2 separate regions of the Homo sapiens genome follow, and region 2 is linked to region 1. The links come from fine-mapping of genetic effects on gene expression. Tissue or cell type: whole blood. Region 1 holds a variant in brackets; the other region holds the start of a gene. All regions are shown on one strand. Distances are between the middles of the regions.

Region 1 (5,193 bases):
GGTACAAATTTCAATGGTTATCCTCTAGCCAAATCTGGAATAATTTGATATTAAAATAAATACTGATGGTAATGGATTAAATCTGCTGAATAAAATAGGAATCCATGAGTCTATGTCAATAAAAATAAGTAGAGGATTGAGTATGAGTAATTTTTTTAAAAAGTAAAAAAGTAAGTGGAGGAAAAGGGAAATGTCTTCCTTATAGTAGCATAGCAGCTAATATATATCGTAGGAATGATGATAATGGATAAACCACCATTTACAACCGCCATAATGGTGGTTAATTCAGGCAAAAGTAATCAATAACTACTAAGTCAAGTTAGTGGAGATTTAATGGGATACAAGATATTGGCATAGTTTGAGAATATCTTCCCACAAAATGTTCATCAATTACAAATAGAAAATTGATGAGTTAATGTGGAGAAACCTGACACAAAATGACCAGGTGCTAAAGATGAACATCACCAGTGTAGGGACAAGCCCACGTTGTATGCCCCCTCGTGTGATGCAGTGAGAAGAGGACAGCCTCCCTTCCGTATAGCACTCCCAGAACACATGTGTGAACCCAGTCCTGAGGAAACACTGCTGGAACCAGGCTGAGCTTTGGCACTCCAAGAACACATGTGTGAACCCAGTCCTGACAAAATATGGGTAGAACCAGGCTGAGCTTCGGCACTCCCAGAACACAAATGTGAATCCAGTCCTGAGGAAACATTGGTGGAACCAGGCTGAGCTTCGTCCTAGAGACTGAAAGGTCTGCACTCTTTCAAACTAATGAGATCATGAAAAACAGGGAGAGACCAAGGAATTATTCCAGATTGAAAGAGACTAAAGAGACTTGTGTATGAAGTACAAAGTGTGATCCTGGCCTAGACAGGAAAGAGACACTGTTAGGACAGCTGGCAAAATATGAATATATTCTTTGGATTAGATGTTAGTGTTAGAGCTGATTTCTTATTTCCTGACTGGAAGAGTTGTATGCTGGTTATGTAGAAGAGTGTCCTTGGTTTGGAAAGATGCATGCTGAAGATTTTGGGAATTTGGTGCATCATGTTGCAAATGTATTTTTTAATAAATTTATTTATATGTATTTTATATATTTTTATCTTACATAATATATAACTATATCATATGCATATTACTTATGAATATATCATTAGTATCACCAGACAGAGCATCTATAATTTTGTCTTTCAGGTCTACCGTTGATTTTTTTCATTTTAACAAATATTTCTAATTTCCTAGAATTCTTTCTTGCAAGTTTTTCCATAGCAATCTATTTTTGTTTTCCAAACAGAAGATATTCTTGATACTCCATTCAATTTTGGACATTGCCAGTTGAACATTCCACAGTACTGCAATATCAGCCTGCTCAAAGCTGAATTCTCCATCTTTTCCTACAAGCCTGTGGATCCTATAGTCTTGTGGGCCACTGAAAGCAATAGCTTTCTTTCTAAGTTGGGTAGGAAGCCATTGAAGGGTTTTGAACAGAGAAGTGACATAATAAAATTTGCATTTTAAAAGAATCACCCTAGCTGTATTGAAAATAGACTGTAAGGAGGCAACGGAAGAAGAGAAGATTCCAGTTGGAAGTAGGATAATCAATAATCCTGGTTTGCCCAGGGCTGAGGGATTTCCTGAGACTGGACTTTCAGTGCAAAAACTGGGAAAGTACCAGGCAAACTGTGACAAGCTGGCTACTCTGGTTAGGAGACTATTTCAGAAGGTTCTGGTGTGAAACGATGATAGCTTGGACCAGCTAAATGGAGATGATTATGAGATGTCAGATTCTGGATATATAATGGGTAAGTTTTATATAATACATAATGCATGGGATGTGTCAAGTGAGGAAAAGAGAAGATTCCTGTGTTCTCAGATTGAGTACTAGGAGACCTGAATTAGCATTTACTGAGGGATGAGGGGGACTGTGGAAGAAGCTATTTTGGAGGTAAGGGGTAGGTCAAGAGCTCAATTTGGGACTTTCTAAGCATAAGATGCCTATGATCCAAAAGGGGATGTTACAAGGCAGTGAAATACATGAGCCTTGAGATCAGAGGAAAGAAGTTAGGATTATAGATATTATATATACATGGACTTTAAAAAGAAATTCATGAAGTGTAGATAAAGAAGAGAATAGATCAAGAACTGAGTCCTGGAGATCCCAATATTAGGAGGGTGGACAGTGGAGGGAGAACCACCAATAGAGAGTGAGAAGGAGCTGCCAGTGAGATCAGAGGCAAACCAGGAGAGTGCAGGGGTCCTGGAAGCCAAGTAAAGATGGTGCTTCAAGGTAGGTGGCATGATTCCCTGCATCCAGTGGAATCTGGGGCCTGCAAATTGACCTTTGGGTCTAGTTATAAGGAGGTCATTGTTGAACTTGACAAGATTTGTTTGGGTAGAGTGGTGGGGGCAAAATCTTGATTAAAGGAGAATGGGGGTGGGCACTGTGGCTCAAGACTAATCTCAGCACTTTGGGAGGCCAAGGTGGGCAGATCACTTGAGGTCAGGAGTTCAAGACCAGTCTGGCCAACATGGTGAAACTCTGTCTCTACTAAAAATACAAAAATTAACTGAGCATGGTGACGTGTGCCTGTAGTCCCAGCTACTTGGAAGGCTGAGGCAGGAGAATCGCTTGAACCCAGGGGGCAGAGATTGCAGTGAGCCAAGTTTGCGCCACTGCACTGCAGCCTGGGTGACAGAGTGAGACTCCGTCTCAAAAAGAGAGACAGAGAGAGAGACAATGGGAGACGAAAGGCAGTAGCTGGAGGGGAAGGTGGAAATGCTTTTTGTGGTTTTTTAAGATGTGAAAAATAACAGCATGTTTGCAGATGGGAATAATACAGTAGAGAGGGGAGAAATGATGATTCAGGAGAGAAGGCAGAGAATGGTGAAGCCATGTTCTTAAGAAGCGGAGAGAGGTTAGGATCTAGGGCTTCAGGGAAAGAGCCAGCCTGAGCTAAGAGTAGAGACAATTACTGCACACAAATAGGAAGGAAGACAAGGCATGTGGGTACTGGGTCAGGAGACTGAGTGGATCTGGCAATGGGAGCTCATGAAAATTCTCTTCTGGCACTTCTAATTCTCAAGAAAGTAAGGAGCAAGGTAATCAGCTGAGGTGGCATGGGGAGACTGCACTGGAGGTCTGAAAGAGGTAAGCTATAAAGGCATCGCCTAGGGGAGCAGATGGAATGGGGAAAGAAG[G/A]ACAGCTGCTGAGCAGCACTCTGAGCTACTTGAGGTTTCAGTGGTCATGGATTTAGAGAGAGAGACCAGTCAGCACTTTACAACTTTCAGTTCCCTTAATGCTATCTGTTTTTTTTTTTTTTCCTGTTTGTTCATCTTAGTCCTTCTCAATTTTACTGTTGGTTTTGCAGAAATGTCTGGTGGTCCATGGTGGCCCATTTATATTTGAAGAAAAAGGGCTGGGTTAATTCACATAGGTGACTGAAGACACTCAAAGCTCCCCTCCCCAATTACTAAATAGGCTGAATGGAAAAAAGACCTACAACCAGACACGTCATGGTCAAGTTTCAGAACACCAAAAATGAAGAGGCAATCTTAAAGTCTTCAGGCACACACACAAAAATGATAACAGCAGTAAAAGCTGTCACACACACACACAAAAAGGTGTCAGAATGCCATCAGCAATCCTGGGGGCTGGAAAATAAAAAGCAAGCCTTTAAAGTTCTAGAATTCTAGACCTAGCTCAATCACCAATACAGCAAAATGGTAGAATAAACATACCTTTCATCGTATTTAGGATGTGTTCCAACAAAATAAGGAAATCAAAGAAAGACAAGGGCAGGAAAGAGTGAATCCATCTCAGAAGAGCAATGAAGGGAAAGCCCAGGATGAAGGTTTACCTTTCATTACTCTTAATTGCACGCCTTTTCTCAGGTTCAAATGTCTTTACCTTGTGCATTTATCACTTCCACAACTGTTTCTTTTGAAACAGAGTCTTGCTCTGTCACCCAGTCTGGATTGCAGTGGCGCAATCTCTGCTCACGCAACCTCCCTCCCGCATTCAAGTGATTCTCATCCCTCAGCCACCTGAGTAGCTGGGATTACAGGCACGCACCACCATGCCCAACCAATTTTTGTATTTTTAGTAGAGGCGGGGTTTCACCATGTTGGCCAGGCTGGTCTCGAACTCCTGACCTCAAGTGATCCACCCACCTCAGCCTCCCAAAGTGTTGGGATTACAGGCGTGAGCCACTGTGCCCAGCCTAACAACTATTTTTGTTTAAATAACTCTTTACCTCTCAGATCATCAAAATTCTGGACACTGTAACTTCTCCCCCCATATGACTCGAAGTGTTGGAAAAATATGTATGTTTAATTCCTTACTAATTTTTCACATCAAACCTCTTTCTTTTTCATATTATCAGAAATATTTAGATTTAACTATTTATAACTGGGTTTCATTGTTATCAATAGTTACATAAATGCCTCTTCACAGAAAATGCTTCTTTATTATAGAAGCTCTCTTCGTTTTATTTTTAATTTATTTTACTTGAATTTAGTTTTCTTTTGGCTGAATCCTTTCAGCCATATCACCCTTTTCAGAAAAAGTTCCTGGGCAATATACTTTCCAAAATGTCTTTCTGTGACTTGTACACATTGATAATACACGAATGGGCATAATTTCTAGGGTTACACATTTTCTCCCCAAACTCTAAGACAATGCTCATGTGGCTTCTATTATTTAATTAAAAGAGGGTATGTATCCTTGGCTGTTTAGTGGAATCCTGTTTAGCAAATGCACACACCAGGAACTAAACATGACTCCCAGTACTGAATTCCATGAGCTACACATTCTATCTGAGCACTACTCTTGTTTTCTCTTTTTTAAAAACATATGTTTGCTTTATTTATATAGCAAGCGGATAACATTAAACATGGAAGCTTTCCATTTGTGGCACTGAATGATGGCCTACACAGAGCATCCTTCAAAAGCTGCAATTAAGTACCCATCTAACTTTTCAGCAATACAAGCCCAGTTGAGATCTTCTGGTCCATTTGCTTGAAATTTCTTTTTGATTGCATCCTTACAGCTTGTGAAGATCATTTTACTTTTCAGAGGTGGTAGTTCTGGTGCCCACAAAAACAAACAAACAAACAATACTCTTCCGGATTTCTTCGTTTCAAAGCTTGCATCATATAAAGCATAGCAGCAATCTTTTTCAGGAAGCATTC
Region 2 (5,193 bases), 63 kb before region 1:
AGACTCCTTTACAGAGGCCCAAGGAGGCGTGGAGGGAGGGGGAAGGCTGCCAAGGCTCTTTCTGTCTCCATGAGTGTGTCAAGAATGCAAAGCACTAATGCTCTTCACTTGGTCCATCTTGCAGGGTTGAGTTTGCAGTGAGCAACCTTGAAGGATGAGCTGACATCTCGCTCAGGGCCAAATAACCGACTTGCTTACTGCTTGCTATAAAATGGCACGTTACCCAAGGTCAGAGTTCCCTTCCTATAACCTCCCCATCCCTCACACATTCACAGGTATCTATCCAAGCCATGGCATCACTCTGTGGGGCTTGGGGGCAAGGCAACTGACACTGGACGCTGGTTCTCATGCTTGCCAAGCATGAAGCCCTGTGCTGCTAGCAGCTGTGGAACATAGCCGTTAGCTTTAAAAGAGGGTAAAATCACGTCCTGGACAGGACAGCCAGGTGAGTTGGGAAGGGAAGAGAGCCTGCCACGGGCACAGGCATGTTGGGGGAAGTGGAAGTGGTGAGAGCACAGTAGGAAGTGAGAAGGGGCGGGCCGTGCTTACCAGGCCGTGGACTTAAACCAGGATGAGAGAACCCCTGGAGGCGTTTAAGTTGGCAGACTTGGATTTCAGGAAGAGCTCTCTGGCTTCTGGGTGGAGAATGGCCAGTGGGGTAAGTGGTGAGAGGAAAGACAGAGAACGGAGAAGGTTAGATGGGCTTGGGAAATTATCCAGGCCCTGGATGGAGGTAGAGATGTGTGCTCATGAACACGGAGGGGATTACTGATGTGGGGTGGATGAGACTGTCGTCAAGAGTGTGGGACAGGAAGAGAGGGAGAGTCTTGGCCAGATCCAAGAAAGGAGCCCTCAGAAGAGGAGGGGAGTCAGAGGCAAGGAAGGGGCTGAGGCAGCCAGCCCAGCTGAGTGGACCCCAGGAGAGGTATCAAGGGGTGGTGTGGGGTGGGGAGGGGCCAGTGTCAGAAAGTGGATGGGGAGCGGCCTGACTCTGCTTTTGTCCTGTGGCCTTCTGGCCAAAGGCAGGGAAAGGTGGCCAAACACTGAGACCAAGAACAAAGAAAGAAAACTGCTGGTGGACTTCTTCCACCATGAGCAGGCCACCAAGCCCGCAGCACTGCACTGCAGCCCCCAGCTCTGTCCTGGGGTTGGGGGAGGTGAGGAGGGGCAAGGTGGGGAGCACACAGAGCACCCGCTGTCCTCGGAACACCACAGCGACTAGAGGTAAGGGAGCACCGGATGTGGCTGGGATGTGGGCAGCAAGGGGCCAGAGGGGCCTTGAAGGGGTCACAGACCATTTAATGAAGGTGTATTGAAGGCCACCATGGGCCAGGCCCTAGTTAGGGATGGATCAGAATTATATAGCATATGCCAGGGGTCAGGCAGGTAATGAAGTGATCGGAAGGTGATGAGGCAGTGGCAGTTGAGATTCACGTTGCAGTCGCCCCAAGCTGGCCAGGCCAGGGAGCAGAAGCATGGCTGGATGCCGGAGCCCACCAGGCTCCCCACTGCAGGGCAAGAGTGGCAGGGGGAGAGACTGTGAAAGGAGCATAGGCCAGGTCCTGGGTGAAAGCTGTGTCCTCAGCCTTGACTGATGGGTATAGGGAGCCACTAAATGCCTTGGGGCAGAGAGGTGAGGAAAAAAATATTTACCGAGCATCTACAAGGTGCAAGGTACTCACTAGATGCCTTCAGTACCAAAGCTTCTCAAACTTAGTATGCATATCACTCTTCTAAGAATTTCATTAAAATGCAGATTCTAATTCAGCAGATATAGGGCAGGGCTTGAGGTGCTGTCTTTAATAAGCTCCCAGTGCCTGGGACTGCACTTTGAGGAGAAGAGCTGTGTGTGCCCCAGTGTGGTCCAGTGAGTACTCTGGGCTCCCTCTCGTGGGCAGGGAAGCTGAGGGCCCCATGAGCTCTCCCAGCTTCCTGAAGGCTCCCCATTAATGAGAGCTGACTGTGCTGTGCTTTGCTGACTGCAGGGCCTGCTCCCTGCCCCCCACCTCCAGGTTGGGGTAAGTGGCACCTCTCTCCCTCCAGCTCCGCAGTCTTCCCTGAGGTTTAGATCTTCCAGGTTTATAAAGTCAGGCCCTCCTGTTGGCAGCTGGCCTCCACCCTGGAGTATCTGAGCTTGCCTGTGGCAGCATCTAAAGATAGTCTCCCTTACAGGAAACAAGATACTATTGGCTAACTCTGCAAATAAAATGCTCTTAGAGGGAAGGAAAGGGAAATACTCGTCTCTGGTAAAGTCTGAGCAGGACAGGGTGGCTGACTGGCAGATCCAGAGGTTCCCTTGGCAGTCCACGCCAGGTAGGTGCACAGGACTAGTTGGGTACCTGTGGGTGGGGTGGAGCAGTGGACAGCTAATAGGTTAATAATGCCTGTTTGCTTACGTGCAGACAATGGAAACCATTTTCCTGGGGATGTTGTAGCCTAAATATGTCCAAGGGGATGGAAGAGTGGGAGGCAAGGGGTGATCAGATCATTTATAATACACTCAACCTGGTGGAATAGTATTAGAAGCATTAGTAATTACATTTTAGAGACATGGAGAAAAGCTCATGATTTTAAACTAACTGAAAAAAGCATGAAAAATTGCATCTGGATGCTGTTGAGGAATTATTGCTAATTTTTTGAGATGAGAAATTGTATTAAAGTCTTTTTCAAAAAAGAGTCCTTAACTTTTAGAGATGCACACAAGTGTTTATGGGTGAAATTAAATAATTCAGTAGAGACATTAAGTGGGAAATAGAGGAAATATTGACCATGGGTTGCTAATAGTTGAAGCCAGGTGTTGGGTATAAGGAGGTTCTCGCTGCTTTTATTTGAAAAGTTGCTTTTTATTTGAAAATTTAATAATAAAGAGTTTTTAAATTTGTATCTGTATTTTAATATAAATATAAATGCACTTAATATAAATATAAAATATGTATAACATTTAGATAGAGAAAAGCTAAAAGATTACTGTGGTTGATTCTAGGAAACTGCATTGCAGATAGTTTCATGGGTTTTTTTTTCCTTTTTCTTCCACTTTTTGTACCATCTATGGGTTTTTGTTTGTTTTTTGTTTTTTGGGTTTTCTTTCTTGTTTGTGTTTTGTTTTTTGAGACGGAGTTTTGCTCTTGTTGCCTAAGCTGGAGTGCAATGGCACAGTCTCGGCTCACTGCAACCTCTGCCTCCTGGGTTCAAGTGATTCTCCTGCCTCAGCCTCCCAAGTAGCTGGGATTATAGGCATGTACCACCGCCCGGCTAATTTTGTATTTTTAGTAGAGGCGGGGTTTCTCCATTAATAAATTCCTGGCACAAATTTAGTGTTCAATTTTGATATATGTTGTTATAACCATTGTGAGGATACTCAGGCTCAGGTTTGTGTGGGTGGAAAACATGGTCTTCAGAAAGAAATTATGAGTGCAAGACAGGAGGAAATCCATCAGAGGCCCCAGCTGAGGACTGACCACGGCTTGTTATTTCTCTTGCCTTGCCTCTGGCAATCACAGCCTCACAGAGCCTGCAATCCTTGCTTTGTGAGTTTATAGCTCAGTCCAGAGAATGGCTAAGAAAGTTTAGGATTCTTTCAACACCCACTCCACAAAAAAAAAAAAAAAAAAGAAAAGAAAAAAAAATTAATTTTTGAAATACTTGAGGTAGAAAACTTGAGGCAGAAAAAAATTGAGCCAAAAAAAAAGGAAAATTGAACCACGTGAAAGCAGGCAAGAAAGCTTGCATTGCTCAGGGCATCCCAGGCCCAGAGGGCGCTTTGGAGGGAGCTGGGTTTCCTGAGAGGAGGCAGGGTGGGTGACGGACCTGTGCTGGAGAGCCTTGAGGACCACTGTGGGTTGGGAATGGGGGCAGTGGATTGGGGTTCAAAACCCCTGGGAATGAGAAATGGGCTCAGGAAGGCTAGGGTGGATTCTTTCATCTTCCTCTTTGCTTGGCTTTATTTTCACAAAGGAAGGCAGGGCAGGAAATAGTCTCAGCCCAACTTCAGTGTGGTTCTTCTTAGTGCTCAGGCTTACCTGGCACTTGCCACACCTCTGGGATGGGAGCACCTACTATCCATCAGCCACGTGCCAGTCTCCACAAAGTCTGCTCCTGAACCCTGCTCCTCAGCTGGCCCCACTTCACAGATGGGGACATAGGCAGCTTGGCTTTGGAATGAAGGAATGAAGTCAGGAATGAAGTCCTGGCTCTGCACTTGGTGACTGTGCACTGGGCTTGCTAAGTCTGTTTCCTGCTTTTAAAATGGAGATTGTCCATCAGCCTTTGAAGCCATGTAATGGGTATGTGTCAACTTTCTGCAAGGATTAAAGGCATGGTATAGGAAGTCCCAAACACACTGCCTGACCCATCTTTGATGCTCAAGAAACGATATATGTTGTTGTCATGAGGAAACTGAGCCTCAGAAAGTTTGGATACCTGAAAAACACTGACTACTATTGAATGAGGTTGTGAAGAATCCAGAGCTGTAGGGGCAGGAAAGCAAAGAACGTATTAGAGCTGACCCAGTCAGGACGATCGTCTATCCCCTTCCTCACCCCACCCCATCCCAGGAGGAAGCCTGCCCGGCCCTAGGCAGCTATGGCACAGTGGCAATGTCAGGTATGGTTCTCCCTAGCCAGAGACCCTAGCCTCAAAAAACCTCCTTCTTGGGATCCAGGCATCCAACTGCTCCTCCCCAGCCCCAGCCTCTGACCCAGTATCCTGAGTCCAGAGACGTTTGGAACCAGCACCTGTAATGGAGGAGCTGAACAAGGAGGGGAACTTCTGCTGCTCCACAGCAGGTCACGGTCATAGGAGGGAGTGGAACCAGAATGGCAGAATCCAGATCTTGGCTGCCTTTCCCAAGGACTTGTTCTGATTCCTAGCAGCACAGCCCAGGCATTCCGAGAAGTTGGGCTCTCTGGCATCACTCACTCTGCCCAGAAGAGCCAGGGGAAAGTTGGGGCTTCTAGCTGAACCTTGATCCCACCTGCCCTCTTGAGGGGCTCAGAATCTGCTGGCTGCTTCACAGGTGGGATTCTCACGGCACGCTGGCCACAGCTGATGCTTCGACCCCCTCATCTTGTTTGGCCAAAGTGCAGCTTTTTAGCTTGTGAGTAAGGAAGAAAAGCTGTATCATATGTCTTTAAACATCTTCCTAGACCACCTTTGTTTTCCCCTTAAAGTGTGCTTAAGGAGAAAATGGAAAGT

The links. PIP is the estimated chance that this variant, and not a neighbour inherited with it, causes the effect.
Region 2: it holds the start of CX3CR1, and the variant in region 1 is fine-mapped to the expression of CX3CR1 in whole blood (TOPMed, PIP above 0.99).

What each region holds. Positions count from the first base shown.
Region 1 is chr3:39,214,410-39,219,602 of GRCh38, reverse strand. DSTNP4 (DSTN pseudogene 4) reads right to left here. Exons shown (of 2, transcript XM_047449432.1): 2 at 4,931-5,193. The coding sequence ends at 4,931. Among named protein-coding and RNA genes, the nearest start is that of DSTNP4, 4.2 kb to the right of the region's middle. The variant G/A (reference allele first, on the strand shown) is at 3,202.
Region 2 is chr3:39,277,074-39,282,266 of GRCh38, reverse strand. CX3CR1 (C-X3-C motif chemokine receptor 1) reads left to right here and starts at 2,231. Exons shown (of 2, transcript NM_001337.4): 1 at 2,231-2,313.